4 linked regions of the Homo sapiens genome follow. The protein of the gene in region 1 interacts with the protein of each later gene in a pairwise test. Each region holds a gene or a part of one and is shown in the gene's direction. Other genes may lie near its edges.

Evidence for each region. The genes of interacting proteins can lie anywhere in the genome.
Region 2: the proteins of KLF10 (region 1) and TNS1 interact in a two-hybrid assay, tested with the Homo sapiens proteins (one large-scale study listed by BioGRID and IntAct).
Region 3: the proteins of KLF10 (region 1) and BOP1 interact in a two-hybrid assay, tested with the Homo sapiens proteins (one large-scale study listed by BioGRID and IntAct).
Region 4: the proteins of KLF10 (region 1) and CRIP2 interact in a two-hybrid assay, tested with the Homo sapiens proteins (one large-scale study listed by BioGRID and IntAct).

What each region holds. Positions count from the first base shown.
Region 1 is NC_000008.11:102,652,218-102,657,798, reverse strand, and holds the start of KLF10 (Krueppel-like factor 10), read left to right. Parts: upstream 1-2,073; 5' UTR 2,074-2,197; coding exon 2,198-2,233; intron 2,234-4,055; exon of another isoform or gene 4,056-4,326; coding exon of another isoform or gene 4,327-4,329; intron 4,330-5,401; coding exon 5,402-5,581.
Region 2 is NC_000002.12:217,798,760-217,802,435, reverse strand, and holds the end of TNS1 (tensin-1), read left to right. Parts: 3' UTR 1-2,645; downstream 2,646-3,676.
Region 3 is NC_000008.11:144,263,961-144,268,230, reverse strand, and holds part of BOP1 (ribosome biogenesis protein BOP1), read left to right. Parts: exon of another isoform or gene 1-88; coding exon of another isoform or gene 89-127; intron 128-1,050; coding exon of another isoform or gene 1,051-1,617; exon of another isoform or gene 1,618-1,778; intron 1,779-3,159; coding exon 3,160-3,314; intron 3,315-3,399; coding exon 3,400-3,517; intron 3,518-3,614; coding exon 3,615-3,716; intron 3,717-3,793; coding exon 3,794-4,006; intron 4,007-4,088; coding exon 4,089-4,250; intron 4,251-4,270. Other genes in the region: SCX (basic helix-loop-helix transcription factor scleraxis), read right to left, coding at 89-127, 1,051-1,617. UniProt on the Homo sapiens protein: Component of the PeBoW complex, which is required for maturation of 28S and 5.8S ribosomal RNAs and formation of the 60S ribosome.
Region 4 is NC_000014.9:105,472,633-105,478,151, forward strand, and holds the start of CRIP2 (cysteine-rich protein 2), read left to right. Parts: upstream 1-2,188; 5' UTR 2,189-2,230; coding exon 2,231-2,273; intron 2,274-3,226; exon of another isoform or gene 3,227-4,110; intron 4,111-4,610; exon of another isoform or gene 4,611-4,969; intron 4,970-5,519.

The sequences.
Region 1 (5,581 bases):
CTCTAGGAATTGTGCCACCACCACACTGTTCCTCCTACCCCTTTTCTCTTTTCTTTCCTGTTTTGAATCACTCTCACAAGTCAAGACCGCTCCCTGCTTCTTAGCCCGCTGGGGAGCCAGGCCAGCAGGCCCCACATTCCTGAGGAAGGGACAGGGTTCTGGCCTGGAGGGTCTAGCAGAAGCCACCCCAGGGGAGGGCCCGACAGGAAGGAAGGTAGGCCTGCCGGAGGGGCATACAGGAGCTTCCTCTCCCGCCACAGTGTCCAGGGCCAACTGCTCCAGCCCTCAGGCTGGGTCAACAGGATGGGACAGCCCAGGCGGAAGGAAACCTGTGGGGAGGGACACCCCGCAGACAGAAGCAGGGACATGGGGTGGGGAGAGGCAGGAAGAGCTGCCGGGCTGCTGAGCTGGCGCCTCTCCAGCAGACTCAGGAGGGGCGGTGACAGGAGGCCATTCCCTCCTCATCCCCGCAGCCCTGGGCCTCTCTGGTCCTGGCCAACAGTATTACTATCATTATTATTGCTGTTGTTCGCTAGCCTGGGCCTTAGATACATTAGAAAAAAACCATCGGAAGATACGCATAGCATTGGCAGTTTCTAAAAGAATTAATTCCCTTCCTGTGTTCATTCTGTGATTACTGGGATAGAAATGCTATTTGCATTACCAGCCTTTCATTCAGTTACAGAGACGTGAGTGCTCGAAGGAGAGACAGTGATTTTTGCCTTAAATTCAGCCTGTCCAAATCGGATAAGATCTCCGATTTGCTTTAAGCCCCGTTATCACTGCCTTCCTCTCCAACAACAGCTGCTGTGATCACGCACAAACGGCCAAACGGGGGCAAATCCGTGCCAAAGCAGGGCCATGGGCTTTCCTGATCAGAAGGCCTAGCCCCAGCCCCCAGGCGCAGCACACGGGCGGCTTCCTTTCAGAAACCCAGCCTGCCTCCCACCAGCTGGAGTGGGTGGGTGGGGCGGTAGTGGTGCCAGTTTCAGGGAACGGCCGGCAAACCCACCTCCAGGCGTGCTCCAGCGGGAGCCTGGAGACCCTAGGAGAGCCCTCCCCACAAGCGGCTTCCAGGCAGGACGCTTCCAGAGGTCTTGGTCCAGGGGTGGGGGTGAGGTGGGGTCTACCTTTGAAACAGCTACAATTTAAACTTCAGCTACACCGAGCTCAAACTCGATTCCGCAGCCGAGTGTCGGCGCCAGAGAAGGATAAAAACTCGGGTCTACGGCTCCCCACCACGCCCCTGGTCCGGTCCTCTGGGCTTCCAGGAGTCCTCACGCCATCCTCTGGGTTGCCCAGGAGGAAGGATGGGCGGGGCGGGCAGGCGCTGCGGGCGCTGCAGATGGGGAGGGCGAGCCCGCGGCACGGCGTGAGCGGGGGAGAGGCGCGCGAGCAGGTGTCGGCTCCGTGACAGGGTCCCCCATCCCGCGCCCCAGTGCTCCCCGAGGCTTAGTGAGGCAAAACCCAGCAAATGCTTCAGAAATGCAGCTCAGTCGGTCACCGGGTTCTGCTTCCTCATCAGACGCGCAAGAGGATGGCGCTTCCAATGCAAATCTCTTGGCTCCGGCCCCTTGGCTGGCAGCCGCCGCGTCCCCCGCCTGCCTGGCGTCCCGCCCACTCCGTGGCGGGCTGAGACGAGGCCCGGCGCGGAGGGGACGGGGCGGAGCGGGCATCCCTCCCCACCCCCCACGTGGGGCTGGCCCTCCGCAGTGCCTGGGCGCGCTGCAGTCGCCGCGCCTCCCCGGCCGCGGCACCGCCTCTCTAGGCAGGGGCGGGGGACGAGGGGCAAGGAGTGGGCGAGGGGTGGGCGAGGGGCGGGGGGCGTCACTCAATCAGGTGGCCTCTGGAGTTCCCCGGGGCAGGGCAGAGGGAACACGCTGCCGGGGATTGTGTACACGCTCCACTGACACCAGCTTCACGCTGCCGGGCAGTCGCCGATCACGCGTGGCCCCGCGAGCCCATTGGCCGGCGCCTCACACACCTTTGCCGTTGATTGGCCGGCCTCAGGCTCCGCCCCCACCCCCGCCCGCGGCGCGGGGCAGGCTGAGCGGCTACCTGAATGGGGAGGGGGCAGACGGCGCTGAGCGCGGCGGCGGCGGGAGCGGCGTCGAGTGTCTCCGTGCGCCCGTCTGTGGCCAAGCAGCCAGCAGCCTAGCAGCCAGTCAGCTTGCCGCCGGCGGCCAAGCAGCCAACCATGCTCAACTTCGGTGCCTCTCTCCAGCAGACTGCGGTAAGTCATTTGGGGATGCCCCTGTGCTTCCTCGCCTGGTCTTGTCTGGGGGGCCAAAGGGGGCGCGAACCCCGAGCCCCGGACATCAGCCATGCCTGAGAATTGGGGCTGCAGCGGAGTCGTGGGGAAGGAAAGGGCTTCCTGCCTGCAGACTATGGGCATTAGTGAGGGCGTGTGTGTTCGGGAGGGGGTCGAACCAGGGGGCTGGGATCTTCAGACAGGGACAGGGGTCTTGCTCTAGATGTACTGAGGGGAAGGGACAACTCCGCATGGAGACCCGAGAGGGCTGGTGAGGAGGAGGATGACGAGCGGGGGAGGAGTGGGGAGGGGGCCGTTGCCCTGCAGCGAGGTTGGGGTACAGTGTGGAACGAGAGTCGCGGGAGGGACAAGGGGGCTACCCTCACCTGGTACCGAGGAGAGATGCCCGGTCTGGCTCAGGAACGCGAGCCAGGGGAGGAAGGGGCTGCTCGCAAGCACTCGGGAGGCGGGGTGTCCACAGGAGAGGCGAGTGGGCTACCCATCCTGGGGGTCTGAACCCACGCTTGGAAGACGGGGGCTGCTCAGCAGATAGCTCGGGGCTGGGGGAAGGGGCGCCTGTCGTCGGAGCGGGGGGATGACACGAGGGCCCGCCGACAGCCCTGGGGGACGAGTTGCTCCCCCAGACGTCTGGAGGGGGACTCTTACCCCAGGGGCAGGTGGCCGCCTTCTGACGACTCCTTGGAAGAGGCGGGGAGCCGCCTCTGGGGCAGGAGGGTGGGAAGCGGGACCCAGCAGCTGGGGCGGGAAGGTGGGCGGGGGGAGCTGGGCCGCGAGACGCGGGGGCCGCGCGTCTGGAGCCGGGGCCTGTGGGGGCTGCACGTCTGGGAACCCGTGGAGACGCGCGGCGGGAGGGGCCTGGAGCTGCCGGAAGCCACGGGGAGGGGGCGCCGCGTCTACAGGGAGAGACGGGGTGGTCTGAGGTCCCGTGGGCCGCGTGGGCGGGAAGTGCCGAGGGCTCGGCCGGGTTCCCGGGGGCTGCCGGCGGGAGGAGGGCGGCGGCCGGGTTTCCGCGGGGACCTGGCTCCTCCTCCCGCATCTGAGGCGGAGGCCGGGGGTGGGCCGGGAGCGGGTGCGCCCGGGGAGCTTCTCGTCCCCGAGTGACCCAGCCCCGGCCTCCGCCAGGGGCGGGAGCGAGGCCCGGCCCCGCTGTCGGTTCCTAAGGGAACGGCGGCTCGCGGGGAGCTGGAAGGGGCGGGCGCCTCCCGGAGCCTGGCGCCCGCAGCCCCGCCCCTCCCCGCGGGCCCGGCGCGCACGGCCGGGCGGTTGGCGGCGGCGCCCGCGGCCCCTCCCCCGGGTCGGGCGCGGGCGGGGGCCCGCAAGCTCAGGAAGTAGGGGAAAGGTGACGGCGCGGCAATTCCCAGTTCACGTTTCCTGCGCCTCCCGGAGCAGCCGCTGATCACGCTTTGTTCACATGCCTCGCCCCCTCCTCGCCCACGCCCCCGCCCCGGGCCGCACAGCCAATCCGGGCTCGGGCCGCCGAGCCGGCCGGCCAATGGCGGGGGCAGGGGCGCGGGGACGTGCGAGCGGCGAGGAATGTTCCCAGTGACTCACCCGTGAGCCTCATTGAGGTTAGGGCGGCCCCATCCGTCGGTCTCCGCCAGCTAGGATCTCCCCCGCCGTCCGCCCCCGCCCCTCGTCTGCCTCCCCCGCCCGCGCCTCCGCCCGCGCTTCCCTTTCCTGCCTCGCGCCCCACTCCCTTTCCTCCCCTCCCTGTTTCCCTTCCTGTCCTTCCCAGCTCACGCTCTCTTTCCCTGCCGCCTGCCTTTCTTTTTTCCTTTTTTTGCATTGGCGTCTTGGGGCTGTTACACACACGCGCGCTGTCCATTGCAGCTTACATAAAGGCGGGCGCGATTATGCAATTATATTGTTAGCGATATTTCAAGAGCAATGGCTCGTTTTCTTAGGATTTCAACACGAAGGCATCATGCATTTTTGAAAAACTAGTATTGAGAATAATACCTTGCAACGTAAAGAATGTTTTTTGGTATTTTTACACAATCTCTACTTTGACCAAACGAGTCTGGACAGTTTTCTTTTAATGGAAAATAGGAGAAATGGTGAGTAGTACCATTTTTTTTTAGCGTAGTTCAAAGAACTTTACTATAAAACATTAGGTAGTTCTACAAATAAGTGCAAAACCTGTGCTGTTATTTTGTCATCAAGCAGTTCTTTAAGGAATTAAAATAGATTCTACTTTGATTATGCTGACTTTTTAAAGTCGGTTTTTGCAAATTCCAAGTAGAATATTAAATTTTTTGATTATCCAGTTTTTAGTAATATTGCATTAGCTATGTTGTAGTTATGTATGGCAAACCATTGTGTCAAATAGATTCAGTAAAAGGGAGCACAAATATGAAGAGGTTGAAAGTTAATTAAAATAAACATTAGAATTTTTTTCTATGTATATCACTTGATTTTTCTTTACCATAATCAAGTGATCAAATTTTAGATCTTAAATAATGCAATTTTAACTTGAAAGATACCCTGAGGATCCCTTATCTTTTGATTTTTATCCCAAAGTGCAAAGTGACTTTCCAAAGGTCAGACCCATAACAACAGGCCAGAGCTCTACTACATTTTGTCTTTATTAGAAGGTTTTGGCTATTTTTTTTTTCTATCAGCAATTTGTACCTCAAAAGACCTCATACCATACCTGTAATATTTAAGAAGATAAATTTTTTGCCGCACTCTTAGTTTTTTTGCCCGACTCCAGTTGCAGGTAGCTACTCTGGAAAGTCTATATAAAATACTCCTTTTCTTCTTAGCCAAATACTTCTCCTTTTGGATCACAAATGCATTGATAATTTTCGTCTTAGTCCCCTTAATGGTAGTAGGTGTGCCTCTCTCCCATGAACGGATATCGCTTTATCAGTGTTAAAGTCTAAATGTTAACAGAAAAAATGAGGAAGATTTTATTGCCACTACTGTGAGGTTTGGGTTACCTACCTAACAAGTGTAGCTGAACTTCCTTAGTATCATAGTAAGTGTGAGAGGAAAATTATTTCTGATTTTAATTTGGAAAGTTGTGTGAGTTGTAAAAAAAAAAAAAAAAAAAATTTGCTCATTTTTCTGTGTGTCATTTGGATGACAAAAAATATGCTTATAAGCTTTCCTCTTTTGTTTTTATAGGAGGAAAGAATGGAAATGATTTCTGAAAGGCCAAAAGAGAGTATGTATTCCTGGAACAAAACTGCAGAGAAAAGTGATTTTGAAGCTGTAGAAGCACTTATGTCAATGAGCTGCAGTTGGAAGTCTGATTTTAAGAAATACGTTGAAAACAGACCTGTTACACCAGTATCTGATTTGTCA
Region 2 (3,676 bases), on another chromosome or scaffold:
ACACATAGGTGCGTGTGTGTCTTTTGTATTTTTTCTCCTCCAAGGAGCTGTGTCAGTGTGGACGTTCTGTTTCAGGGAGTTGGAAAGGAGGGTGTCTGCAGAAGGTGGAGAGCAGGGGCAGAGGCCCCACTGGCCACCCCCTGCTTCCCAGAGTGAAACCTTGTGCCTGGTGACCAAAGTCCCTCCAAAGTGCTCTTCCTTCTGGGTTATTCAAGCCAAATATCTGGGTTTCCCCCTCTCCTCATTCCCTAGCAAACCCCAATTATCTTCCAAGATAGGAGATATTTCCCATCCCCTTCCTTTGTAAATATCTCATCTCCCACTGGAGAGCCCAGGAGCCTATTCCTGGCATGGATGTTCTGTCCACACTTGAGGCTGGGCGGTGTATCAGACCCTTCAAGCAGCCTGGCTGGGGCCCAGGACTGAGTCTGGGGTCAGCTTTCACGGTCGCTTTTCCCTTCCTCACCACCCACCACAGCCCACCTTGCATGCATGGCCAGCCCCTCCACTCCAGCCTGAGCCATGTGTGCCCCTGCGGGAGGACCCATTCATGCCAGAAAGCTGGTAACTCCCTCCCAGCATCCCTGCGGAAGGAGTCAGTTTCTGAGAGTGTGACTTTTCAAGGCGAATGATGGGGAAGGGTTCCCCAGTCCCCACAGTGGCCCCACCTCTGGGCCCTGCACCAGAGCCCTTCTGTGTCACGGCGGGCTGTGCACCCATGCACACACCTACGCACACACAACACTCCGCACTGCAGTATATTCTTGCCAAAGATTTCCTTTAAAAGCAAGCACTTTTACTAATTATTATTTTGTAAATGTTTATCTTCTTCTGTCTTCTCCCTCCCTGAATCTATTTTACTGTTGTTTATTGTTGAATCTGTGTGTCAGCCAGGAGAGCGCTGTCTGGCCTTGAACATGGGCTGGGATGGGAAAGGGTCTGGGAGAAGATGGGCAACAAAGAGCCAGGGAGTCATGGACATCGCAGCGACGCAGACCCCAGCAGGTTCAGTCCCGTGCTGCCACCAGCTGTCCAGCTGGGTGTCTGGAGGGAAGAGGGCAGAGGAGGGTCATGTCCCTTCAGCTGGGGGAGGGGCCCAGTGAGCTCCACGTGGCTTTTTCCCAAAGGGAGCAAGAGGGAAGGATTGGGCGAGAAAACAATGGAGAGGGGACCTGCGAAGGAAAACAGGGAGGAAGTGAGCGGTTTGATCAGCCTGCTATCACGGTGTTCTGGCTCTCTTATTTAGCCAGGCGCTTAAGGGACAGATACATCACATCCTAAGTTTGGGAAAGGCCTTTGACCCATGTCATCTGAGCGTCTCCTCCAGTAGCTCTGAAAGCTGTGGACACCAATGGCCAGGATTCCTTCTCCCCTGGTTTTTGAGGATCCCTGGGTCTTCTGAGACTGGCCAGGAGAGGGATGGTGGGGCCAGTGGTTGTGTGAAAGCAGGAGGGGCAGCCCTCCTGGACAAGTGTGATCCCCCTATAAACGGCTCTCAGGAGGTTAGTGAGTAGGAGATTCTGCCTTGTTCTGATGAGCCTGTGCAGGGGCTCCAGGGGAGCATGCTGTCCAGGGGGCACAGAAGGGTGGTGAGTGTGATCAAATCTAGTCTCACTCCCACTTTTTAGTCTCACTCCTACTTTTGTCCACCACCCCTGCCTCCTGGATCTTCTCCCACTTTTTTTTTCAGCTTTAGGACCTGGGGAGATCCTGTGAGTCAAGGCAGACACCCAATCCTGCCCCCACACTCGGGGTCCTCCAAGAGGTTGGGGGGCAGAGTCCCAGAGCAGCCCTTTACCCCAGGTCCAGGCCCTGGAATCCTGAGACTCGCGTTTCCTTGGCCAGTGGTAACACAGGACGTGTGTGCGCATGTGCAAGTGTGGATGTATGTGTGTGCGTGTGTTTTGCTCATTTCTTTAGGGAACTTGGGAGTCGGGGTTGGAGGTGCTGGGCAATGGAACTTCAAATTCAATGTCGCCCAGCAGTGAGGGGAGTCGGGAGGTGAGGCCTGTAGGCCAACCAATTGGTGGAGTCTCAGCGATAGCCCAGGTGAGAAGTGGTTCACCCAGAGGGGCAGGGTGGGGGCCTCGGGCAGATCTGTCCCTCTTGGCACCTCTGTCCTCAAATGTCCAAAATGTTGGAGGACCTCTGTTCATATCCCACGCCTGGGCTCTTGCCAGCAGTGGAGTTACTGTAGAGGGATGTCCCAAGCTTGTTTTCCAATCAGTGTTAAGCTGTTTGAAACTCTCCTGTGTCTGTGTTTTGTTTGTGCGTGTGTGTGAGAGCACATCAGTGTGTGCAGGCTGTGTTTCCCCATTTCTCTCCTCCCTTCAGACCCATCATTGAGAACAAATGTAAGAAATCCCTTCCCACCACCCTCCCTGCCTCCCAGGCCCTCTGCGGGGGAAACAAGATCACCCAGCATCCTTCCCCACCCCAGCTGTGTATTTATATAGATGGAAATATACTTTATATTTTGTATCATCGTGCCTATAGCCGCTGCCACCGTGTATAAATCCTGGTGTATGCTCCTTATCCTGGACATGAATGTATTGTACACTGACGCGTCCCCACTCCTGTACAGCTGCTTTGTTTCTTTGCAATGCATTGTATGGCTTTATAAATGATAAAGTTAAAGAAAACTCTGTGCCGTTATCTATCTGTGTTGTTCGGACAGGGGTCTGCCATGTCTCTGGTGGGCAAAAAGGGGCCTCTCCAGAGATCCAGGTGGGCTTCAGCGATGCCTCTAGTGGACAGCTCAAATCCTCCCAGCGGCCTCCCCACCATCTGCGTGGTGGTTCTGGTTCCCTGTGTTTATTCATTTGGACTCTTTCAGCTGCAAGAGAAACTCAACTCAAACTTGTTTAAGAAAAAGATAAGTTTCTTGGCCCGAGTGACTGAGAAGGCCAGGCCTAGCTGCATTTAAGGGCTCAAATGGTAGAATCTGGAATTCATCCCCATCACTTGGTTCTGAGTTGGCTTAACTTTCAGGTAAGCTGTATCTGAGTGGCGGTGCCCCCAGATGCTCTGGGCTTCCATCCCACCAGCTCGGTAGCTCTAGGAGAAAGGGGGGCTCTTTTCTCCCAATGTTCTCAGCAAGAAACTGGGACATGCGATCATTGGCTGTGATCTGGATCCTGCCTGGCTCATATGATTAACTCGAAACCAATCATTCTATCCGGATCTGGGTCACGCAACTGCCTCTGGAGCCTTCTGAAACTACGGGGACTGAGAATGGGGAAGTGGTTGATCCCGGAAGGAGTGAGGTCTGTCAGAGACAGGGGGAACACGGGTTGTCAGGCAACATCTATTGGGGCCTGTGCCCATCAAGTGGCAAATGTGTGGTTCACTCGTGCACTAGGCCCAGGGCTCCTGGGCAAATTCTTTGGAATTCAGAAAGTTTGGGGGTGGGACCTATTGAGACATGCCTAGCACAGCACAGGGGTCTCTGGGAGATCCAAAATACTCAGTGACGTGGTGCTAGCTCTCCACTGAGCTCACCATGTGGCTGGAGGAGGCTCAGATCAGCTTATTTGAGCAGGTTTGTGCTGAGCCCCCTCAGTGACCCTCACGGTCCTCGTGTGGGCAGCCTTCTCAAGCTTTTGGGTCTTGGGATTCCTTTACATTCTTAAAATTATTCAGGACCCCAAAGGGCTTTTGTTTAGAAGGATTATAT
Region 3 (4,270 bases), about 42 Mb from region 1:
TCAGGTCCAAGGTGGGGGCTGTCTGCAGTCACCCCGGGCGTCCACCTCCCCCAGCAGCGTCTGCCTCCTGGCTGCTGCCGGCCACCTCCTAACTGCGAATCGCTGTCTTTCTGTCGCGGTCCTTGCTCTGCAGAGGGGAGGGAGGAGTGTCAGGCCCCGGCAGAGCCCAGCGCCAGTCTGCGCCTCTCTGGCCTCCCTGCTGGGTGCCATCTCAGGTGGCCAGCGCCAAGGCACCTCCTTCCCGGCTCTCCCCAGCTTCCCTCAAGCGTTTTGGGGAGGGGAGCATACTGCTGCACAGCCGAAATTGTAAAATTAAATTTCCCAGATGTTCAGGCCCCAGGAGCTCGCGCGTGCTGTCTGGAGAGGAAATGGGGATTGGGAAAAGCCGTGCCGTATTTTCTCCCTGCTCACCCTGCTTTTCCGGTGCCACCAAGCACAGCAGGAGCTGTAAATCACAGCTGGCCAGCGTCTCCTGCAGGGGCCCTCACCCCCAGCCCCCACATCTCCTGCCAGCCTCTGCCTTCGTGTCCCATGGCCCACGTCTCGGGCAGCCCTACAGGACCTGGTGTCTTGGTGTGCGGCCTAGGTGGGGGACGGACAGCAGGTGCCCAAGATGGCTTAAGCCAGTGCTGGGCCGCAGGGGCTAAGAACCCGGGGTCCTTCCTCTCTTGCCTTGCAGCCTCTTACTTTCTGAACTCAGCTGTTTTCACTCCGCCTTTCAACTTACTGAAAAGGGAAGCTTGCAGCGGCCTGGTCCAGCTCCCCAGCCTCCCCGCCCTGGGTGGGCCCCTTTGGCCATCCCTAGCTCTTACCCCTCATGCAGCTCCCTGCAGGGGACTCCACACTCCACTGGGAGCCGAGTGTCCTAGGGACGCCCTGGAGAGGAGCCCCAGGAGAAGGCCCCAGCCCCCGGCAGGCCTGTGTTACAGGTGTGCCTGCCTGTGCCCTGTTGGGGAGCCCTGCCCGTGTGGCCTCGCCTCCTCTGCCTGGCAGGTGTGGGCTGAGGGGCGCGTTGGAGGCCCCCCTCGGCGCCCCACGGCCCGTGCTCACCAACTTTCTCTGGTTGCTGAGGCAGAAGGTGCAGATCTGTTTGGGCTGGGTGTTCTCGCCGTCGCGGGCGGGAGGCGGCGGGGGCGGCGGCGGGGGGCTGCCGGCGCGCGCCGCGTGGAAGAAGGCGGGCCCGGAGTGGCAGGGCTGTCCGTCGCCGCAGGCCTCGCCCGCCAGCAGCACGTTGCCCAGGTGCGAGATGTAGCTGGAGGCCAGGCGCAGCGTCTCAATCTTGGAGAGCTTGCGGTCGGCGGGCTCGGTGGGGATCAGCGTGCGCAGCGCCGTGAAGGCCGTGTTCACGCTGTTGGTGCGGTCTCGCTCGCGCGCGTTCGCCGTGTGCCGCTGCCGGGGCTCACGGCCTGGCCGGCCCCCTGGCCCCCCGCCCCCGGCCCGCCGGCCCCCCGCCCTCCGCCGGGCGCCCTGGAGGCCGCAGCGCGCCGCGTGCACGCGACAGGGTTTCTCGTCGGAGCCCGAGCTGTCGCTGCCGCGGTCCTCGTCCTCCGACAGCGGGCTCACCTCGGGGTACAGGTAGCGGCCCGGCGGCGCCGGGCGCAGCGTGGCGAAGGACATGGGGCCGGCGGGGGCGCGGCGTCAGCTCTGTCGCGCGCTGCTCATGCCGCCTCCTGCGGCCGCCGCGGGCCTCGCGGGCCGGCCGGGGCGAGGCGCGGGGTCTCGGCTGCGCCCCGCGGTGGCAGCTGCCGGGCGTCGCGCGCACATGTGCGTCCCGGGCCGGAGCGGGGCCCCGAGCTGCGCCTTTATAGCGGCGTCCCGGCCCCTCCCCCGCGCACGCCCCGCCCCTCTCAGCCCGGAGGCTCCTCGAGCAGCGCCCGCCGCGTCCCTCGGCCTTCTGTGGCCACGCTTTGGCGGGGGTGGGGGGGGCGGGGCTGGTCTTTGGGGGCATCGTTCCGTCTCTGGGGATGCGGAGGAACTGGGAGGTCGCTTCTGGGCTGTAGTTACTCAGGGCCCCAAAACTGCAGTGCCCCCCGTCCCCGGGAGAGGGGAGGAACCCACCACCCCGTTTTCTCCCGTGGCACAACTGAGTTAACCCAGCCGCCCTGGCCCTGCTGCCTGACCGCACCCTGTCTGTCTTTGCCTCCCATGTGCGCCAGCGCCTGCCTGTGCCAGGCCGTGTGCAGGGGGCGGGCACAGGCGAGTATTTAGGGGCCTAGAGCTCAGTCTCTCCGCCTGTCTGTCCTGCACCTGCCTCTCCAGGCTTGGCACAGACTGTGCCTTCTGCTAGCTGGCCATGTCCCCTGTTCTTGTGCTGTGTGGACCTCTCACCCCGTCGGTCTCCTTGCCCCTTCCTCCTTCCCCCGTTCCTCTCCAGGGCCACCAGGCCCCTCAGGAAGCACACACATACCCCCATTATCCAATTTGGGGATGGCCCCCTATCTCCATGGGGAGGAGAGGGAAGGACCCTCAGCAGGGGGCAGGGCCCAAGGGGTCCCTCCTGCAGCAGGGGGCCCGGCAGGCTCCCAGCTGTGCTCTGTCTTGCCTGGGCCCCTCCCCGTGGCTACTGTTGCAGGAAGCAGCCTCCTGGGCAGCGGTCCCCAGGCTGGAAGGAGCGAGGGTGGCGGCTGGCAGGGGCTGCAACCAGGAATGTACGTCCAGGAACGTGGCTGTTCTGCCTGGGGAGGGGCCGAGGGCAGACGGTGGGGGGTCCCCCACAGAGAGGTCTTGGCTTCTGCCTCTCTGTGGAATGGGTCAGTTGGGGTCTTCCCCGAGTCCCCGTCTTATAGCTGCCCACTTCTGCCTAAGGCCCCTGCCAGGGGAGGGAGCCCGTGGGTGATGAGGTCATCCCTGTCTGTGGCTGCCCAGAGCCCTGGCCAAGGAATCCAGTGAGGGGGGAGCTCTGGGGTTGGCACCACTTCAGTGGAAAATGTGAAGGTGCAGCTCCGGCGCCTCCGAGGGCGGGGGTGGGGGCAGCGTGGCCGCCATGCCACGTCAGACCCCAGGGCTGGGGAACAGGCGTAGGTCAGGGCCAGTGACCTCAGGGCACTTGAGGCTGGGCCTGCACTCCCCCTGCAACCCCCTCACCTGCTCCCCTGGGCGGCCCGAAGCGGGGGTGGGCCTTGTAGGATCAGATGCCGACATGGTGGCCCCCGGCTGCAGGACATCCGGAACACGGTGGGCAACGTGCCCTTGGAGTGGTACGATGACTTCCCCCACGTGGGCTACGACCTGGATGGCAGGCGCATCTACAAGCCCCTGCGGACCCGGGATGAGCTGGACCAGTTCCTGGACAAGATGGACGATCCTGACTACTGGTGAGGGCTGGTGGGGTGGGGCCAGCAGCCGGGGTGGGCCCGAGGGGTGGGGCAGGGCTGGCGGGGTCTGACTGGCGGTCTCCAGGCGCACCGTGCAGGACCCGATGACAGGGCGGGACCTGAGACTGACGGATGAGCAGGTGGCCCTGGTGCGGCGGCTGCAGAGTGGCCAGTTTGGGGATGTGGGCTTCAACCCCTATGAGGTAGGTGGCAGGGGCTGGCCCCTGGGCGGCGGGGGTCCTGGAGGCACCAGCAGGGCCTCAGCCACTCTGGCCCACACGCCCACATCTTCTCCCCCAGCCGGCTGTCGACTTCTTCAGCGGGGACGTCATGATCCACCCGGTGACCAACCGCCCGGCCGACAAGCGCAGCTTCATCCCCTCCCTGGTGGAGAAGGAGAAGGTGGGGCACACAGCCCCTGGGGCTTGGCCTGGGCTGACCGCCCCGCACTGCCCGTCCTGACCCGGCTGTCTATGCAGGTCTCTCGCATGGTGCACGCCATCAAGATGGGCTGGATCCAGCCTCGCCGGCCCCGAGACCCCACCCCCAGCTTCTATGACCTGTGGGCCCAGGAGGACCCCAACGCCGTGCTCGGGCGCCACAAGATGCACGTACCTGCTCCCAAGCTGGCCCTGCCAGGCCACGCCGAGTCGTACAACCCACCCCCTGAATACCTGCTCAGCGAGGAGGAGGTGGGCCTGCATCCTGGGGGCCGGGACCCTGTCCCCATGCTTCCCTGTGACCCTCCCCACCCCTGTGTCTTGGTCTCCACAGCGCTTGGCGTGGGAACAGCAGGAGCCAGGCGAGAGGAAGCTGAGCTTTTTGCCACGCAAGTTCCCGAGCCTGCGGGCCGTGCCTGCCTACGGACGCTTCATCCAGGAACGCTTCGAGCGCTGCCTTGACCTGTACCTGTGCCCACGGCAGCGCAAGATGAGGGTGTGTGGGGGTGGCACACC
Region 4 (5,519 bases), on another chromosome or scaffold:
GCCCCCCTCTCCACTCGGGCCCGTCCCACTGTGTCACTGCCCCTGCCTGTGACCCACCGCAGCCTCAGAGGTGGAGACCAAGGCCACTGCTCTGCACCCATTGATCCTGACCCCTGCCTGCCAGGCCCAGAATAGCCCCGTCGCATTAGGGAGCTTCTGGCCGCTGCCCAGGGACTGCGGCTGGGGTGAGGGCAGTGCAGCAGCTGGCACACTCCTTGTCCCACCCCACCCTCCGTGTGTCTCCAGGGCACCTGGCCAGTGCCGAATGCCATTCCTTTGCTGCCACCCTGGGAGGGGCCTGCCTCTACCCCCATCCACTCTTCTGGCAGGGCTGGGGACCTTGGGGCAGGTGGTCTCCCTCCAGAAGAGCCCTGTGTTCAGCCAGCCCTGTCCTCCAGAGCAAGCCCCACAGGTAGCAAGCCCCACAGGTAGCAAAGTCAGGGAGGGTAATGGCTTAGCCCCAGGCTCCCAAGCTGGGCAGAACAGGGCAGGGAGCTGGAGAGGGTTTGGCAGTGGGCCCATGAATCCAGCCTGGGCAAGGCCCTGCTGTGAGGGACCCCTAGGGACCCCTGGGCCTGCCAGGGAGGAAGGGCTGCCCAGAAAAGGTACTGACTGATGCCTCCTCACCATCTTCTGCCTTGGCTGGCACAGGTCCCAAGTGCAGAGGGGGAGCTGGTCAGGCTGGTCAGTCGGGCGGGGGGGCGGGGGGCATGTTTCTGGCCTGCTGTCACCATGGAAATGGCAGTGGCTGCAGGGTGTGTGTGCAAGGGAGGAGGGTGCTGCCACAGAGAGCCCAGCCAGGACCACCATGAAAGCCAGGAGCACCGAGGGCCTCTGGTTGGCTCACAAACATGCCTGGTGCACCAGGCAGAGGGAACAGGTAGGTCTCCGTGTCCAGCCCACAGCCTCCAAGACACAGGGGGAAGGGTGTCCAGAGTCAGCTGCCCCCATAGGGCCTGATCACTGGGCTTCTGGGATCTGCCTGTCTCCCAGGCCGACGCTCAGCTGGGGCCAGAAGGCTCAGAGAAGGGCCCATGGGGACAGAGCACCAGGAAGCCCGTGGGTGCGGAGGTTCCCCACCTGGGGCCAGGCTCTACGGGGCTCTAGGGCGGAGGCACTGTGGTGAGGCGTGGTCAGGCACGCCCTGGTTGGGAGGAGGCCAGAGTGGGGGTGTGGGGGTGCGGTGACTGGCATGACCCCTCAATCTCCCGCCTGACCCCTCGAGGTCAGGCCCTGGGCCCCCAGGCACGCAGCTGGTCCTGGGCGGTGCGGGAGAAGGGACTGGAGTGTCAGCCCCAGCCCGGGGCACAGAGGGCACGCCCACTCCTTCCCCTCCTTCCCTTCCTAACTCCTCACCGCCTCCCCGGCCGCCCCCTGGGTGGAAGTGCTTGGGGTGGACGCCTTAAGCGCGGATCCCTCGGCGCTGGTGCCCGCCGCCCCTTCCCTGCCTGGGAGGCAGACGCAGACCTCCCCACACCCCCTACCAGCAGCTTCTCGAGCTGTTTCTGGAGGTGGCGGCGCCTTCCTTCCTGAGCCCTGCCCTCCACCCAAGGAGCCTTCAGCACCACAGACAGTGTTGGGGCGGGGCGCGGGCGGGGGCGGAGCGGGACATGGAGACCCGGACAGGGCTGGGGGCCGTGCCCGCCGGGAATCTGACTCCGCTCCCGCGGCGCGGCTGTTGCTATGGAAACCGAGCAACAAAGGGAAGCGGGACAGGCGCCGCGCGCGGCGGGGTGGGGGTGGGGTTCTCCCGGAGCCTGCGACCCCTTCCCGCGGCGGAGCGCAGCCTGGGCGCCCAGGGCCGGGAGTGTTGGACCCCTAGGCCCAAGTCACTAGGGCTCCCCGAGAGCCGAGGGCCAGGCTCCCCGCACCCTGCCCGCCGCCCCGGGGACGGCCCGGCCAGGCGGCCCCGACGTCGCCATGGAAACAGCCGGGGCGCGGGCGGCGCCGCGGTCGCCCGGGCGGGCCCCTGTAGACGCCACCTCCGGCGCGAGGGGCCCGGGGGCGCCAGGCCTGGCCCGGCTGCCCCGCACCCGCCACCCCCGGCAGGTGCGCCCCGCCCCCGCGGCGCCCCCAGGCGGCCCCCAGCCCGGGGGACGGGTTATCGAGGCCCCGCCCCGGCCGCGGAGCCAATGGGCGCGCGGACAGCCGGGCAGGCGGGGCTGGGCGCGGGCGGCGGCGGCCCGGAGGAGAACGGGCGGAGGGCGCGGGCCGACCGGGCGCACCGACCATGGCCTCCAAATGCCCCAAGTGCGACAAGACCGTGTACTTCGGTGAGTGCGTGCCCGCTCCCGGCCCGCTCGGTGCATCCCGCCGCCCTTCGCGGCCAGTCCCGCGCCGCAGAGCCGCGGCGTAACTCGGGGTGCGCCCGGCCCCGGCCCCGGACCGAGGATGCGCGTCCCGGAGGCTGGCTGGCCGCGCTGCCCAAGCGGCTAAAGCCAAAGGGTGGGGCTGCGCGAAAGCGGGGGCGGTCACGCCCGAACCCCGAAGCGGCTTGTGGGGGCGGGGCAGGGACCACCCGGGCGGGGCTTGTGGTGCCCCGGGATGAGGCCAGTGTTTGGGGGAGCGCTCGGGGATCCGCGGACGCATCCCGGTTCCTCGGACGGCGCCGGGCGGGGCGGGGCAGGGCGTGGCTGTACGCCCCGGGTGCGTCCCGCGCGCTCCCGTGGGCCTGGGCCCTTTCTCCTGGACCCCCTACACCCGCTTCCCCCGGGAACAAGTGGCCGGGAACAGTGACCCCCAGCTCCCACTCCGGGCTCCGCTGAGCTGGGCTGGGCCAGGTTTGGACTCTGTCGGGATTCAGTCCAAGCGGGGGCGACCTTGGCCTCTGCCTCCTGCTTGTCCCGACGCATTCCCTTGGCGCCAGTTCCCCCAGGAGTTTCACACGGGGGTAGGGTGGGGGCGGGTGTGACACGCGAGTTCCCGCGAACGTGAGAGGGACCTTGTGCTCAAGCAGCCCAGGTGTCCAGGATCCCTGCCTCCTCAAGGTCAGAACAGCCCTGGACAGGATGCAGGTGGTGGCGGGAAGAGGGATGTCTCGCAAGGCGGCCCTCGGTCTAGCCCCTCCGGCAGGCGCGCTCCCCCCGTCTGGGCTTACTCACTCTCTGGGCCTGGGTGCGCCCTTCCTACCCCCTTCCTCCTGGCTGATTCGCTGCCCAGCTTTCTCCAGGGTGGTAAGGTCCCTGCCCACCTACCCACCAGCTGCTGCACGAAGGGGGGCAGACTTAGTGAAGCAGAGAGGAGGGCCGGGACCAACAGGGCGCCTGCCCTGGTCGCCCCATACCCAGAATGCGGCCAGGCTGCAGGGAAGGCCGCCACTGGGCTTCCCCGGCTCACAGGCTGGAGGGGGTTGAGGGGAGGTTGTATTTTGCCCGTCCCAGAGGGGAGGGACCGGATTTGGCCTGGAGTGCTTCTGGCGTGGCTGGGAGCCGAGGGGCTTCCGGCTGCCTCTCCTGGAGCCCGCTCAGCCCTCAGTCTCTGTCCCAGCGAGGGCTGTCTCTGTAAGGCTTAGGGTGGGAGACGGTCCCCAGGGCCCTTCTGCAGTCCAACTGCCCATGACTTTACCCCAGGCCGGGCCAGGCCAGCCTGGGGCTCTCCAGGGTCTCGGCCAACAGTCCTGTGGACAGCCCGGAAAGGCCTGCCTGCCTGGCCCGCCCAGCCTCTCAGCGGAAAACAAAGGCGCTTCAGACCCGGCTGGCTTCTGTCCTGCCTGGGAGGCACTGTGAGGGCGAGGGTCCAGAATCCTGCCCACCCTCACACCAGGCTGCCCCCGCAGCTCATACCTGAGTAGAACCCAGGCTGGGATGTCGGAGCACATTGAGGAGGCCACCCCAGAGCCCATGCAGCCAGGGTGGGCAGCTGGTTTTCTTCTGAGCCATTAGACCCAATCGATTCTGTGTTCCCAACTCGGACCCGTAATGTGTGGCCATTGACCCACCCAGTGGGTCTGAGGGCCAGTTCCCTGCCCCCACTTGGCCCACGTCCCAGAGCTGGCCAGAGCACAGTGCTGGCAGCCCTGGGCTGCAGCTGCCACGGCCGATAGCCACCGAGACTTCCTTGCTGCTGCTGGGACACGCCTGCCCACCGTGCAGCCAGCCCCTGCCTGCCCTGGTGTGTCCCAGCTTCCTTGAGTGGAGTGGTTCTGGTCAGAGGGCTCTAAGCTGGTGCAGCCTTGTGGTTGGGCTGGTGTCCTGGAGGCTGGCCCTGGCCATGCCCAGAGGGTTGTACCAGGGCCACGGAGAGCCAGTATTCACAGCCCTCTACCTAGTAGGCCACCTGGGGGATCCCATCTCACTGCCAGGAGCAGCACCCTTGGGCCTCTCAGAGTGGGCTTCGCCCTAGCCAGATGCCCCTCCCCGATATCTGCCAGACAAAGGGGGCTGGGCCACTTGCTGAGAAAGGGAGCTGGGAGAGCCACTGGTCCTCGGCCACCTGAGGGGCTTGGCCAGATTCTGCCGGGCAGGGTGGGCCCAGCCTGCATGCTCCCTCCCCCCAGGGCCTGCAGCTTGTCCCCTTCCCTTCAGAATTCCGGCTCTGCTGGGCCCTTCCTGCCCCTCCCCACCTCTTCCTGCCTGGCTCCCTAGGGAGGCCCCTGCTTCCATCCACTGGGAAGCAGTCCAGTAGCCCCAGTGTGGGGGTGGGAGGCAGTGGCAGAGGGTCCCGGACCCTCAGCAGCTGCCCTCAGATCTTCCATGCCAGTGGCAGCCAGGGGCATTACGGCGGGGGGAGAGCTCAGGGTTTAGGACGAGGAATCCACAGACAGATGAGGGTCCCGCCTGGAGGACCCACGGGGACGGGGCCTGGCCTTCCCATGAGGGAGCTGGAGGTTCTGGGGCTGCACCTTTGACTCAGCAGCGGGGTGCTGCCAGCCCCATCAGGGCCCAGTTGGTGGGGATCAGGGGCGTGTCAGTGCGAGGCAGGTGTGAGAGGGAGAGCAGCATGTGTTGAAGCAGGTGCACTGCAGAGGCAGGTGTGTGAGTGTAAGAGAAGTGTTTGAGGGAATGACAGGTGGGGGAGATGCATATGTGTGGGGGGAGGCAGGTGTGTGGGGGGAAGCGGGTGTGTGTCTGAGGAAGCGGGTGTGTGTGGGGGGAAGCGGGTGTGTGGAGGCGGGCGTGTGGGGGAGGCGGGTGTGTGTGTGAGAGGAAGGTGTGTGGGAGGAGGCAGATTTGTGGGGGGAGGCGGGCGTGTGGGGGAGGCGGGTGTGAGGCGGGTGTCCGGGAGGCAGGTGTTGGAGCGCGGGCAGGTGTTGGAGCGCGGGCAGGTGTTGGAGCGCGGGCAGGTGTTGGAGCGCGGGCAGGTGTTGGAGCGCGGGCAGGCTCGAGCACAGGCCCCTTCACCGCAGGCACTGAGGGGACTAACAGGGCAGCCCCGGGCCCCTTCTCAAAGGCGGCTCTAGCGGGGTTCCAGGGCTGGGGGCGCTGAGACCCAGAGGGAGAACAGGGCCTGGGGGCGACGGGCTCCTCCGGGTCTCAGAAGGAGGGGCAGGGCCCGCCAGGTGGAAGGAAGGCGCCTGGGAG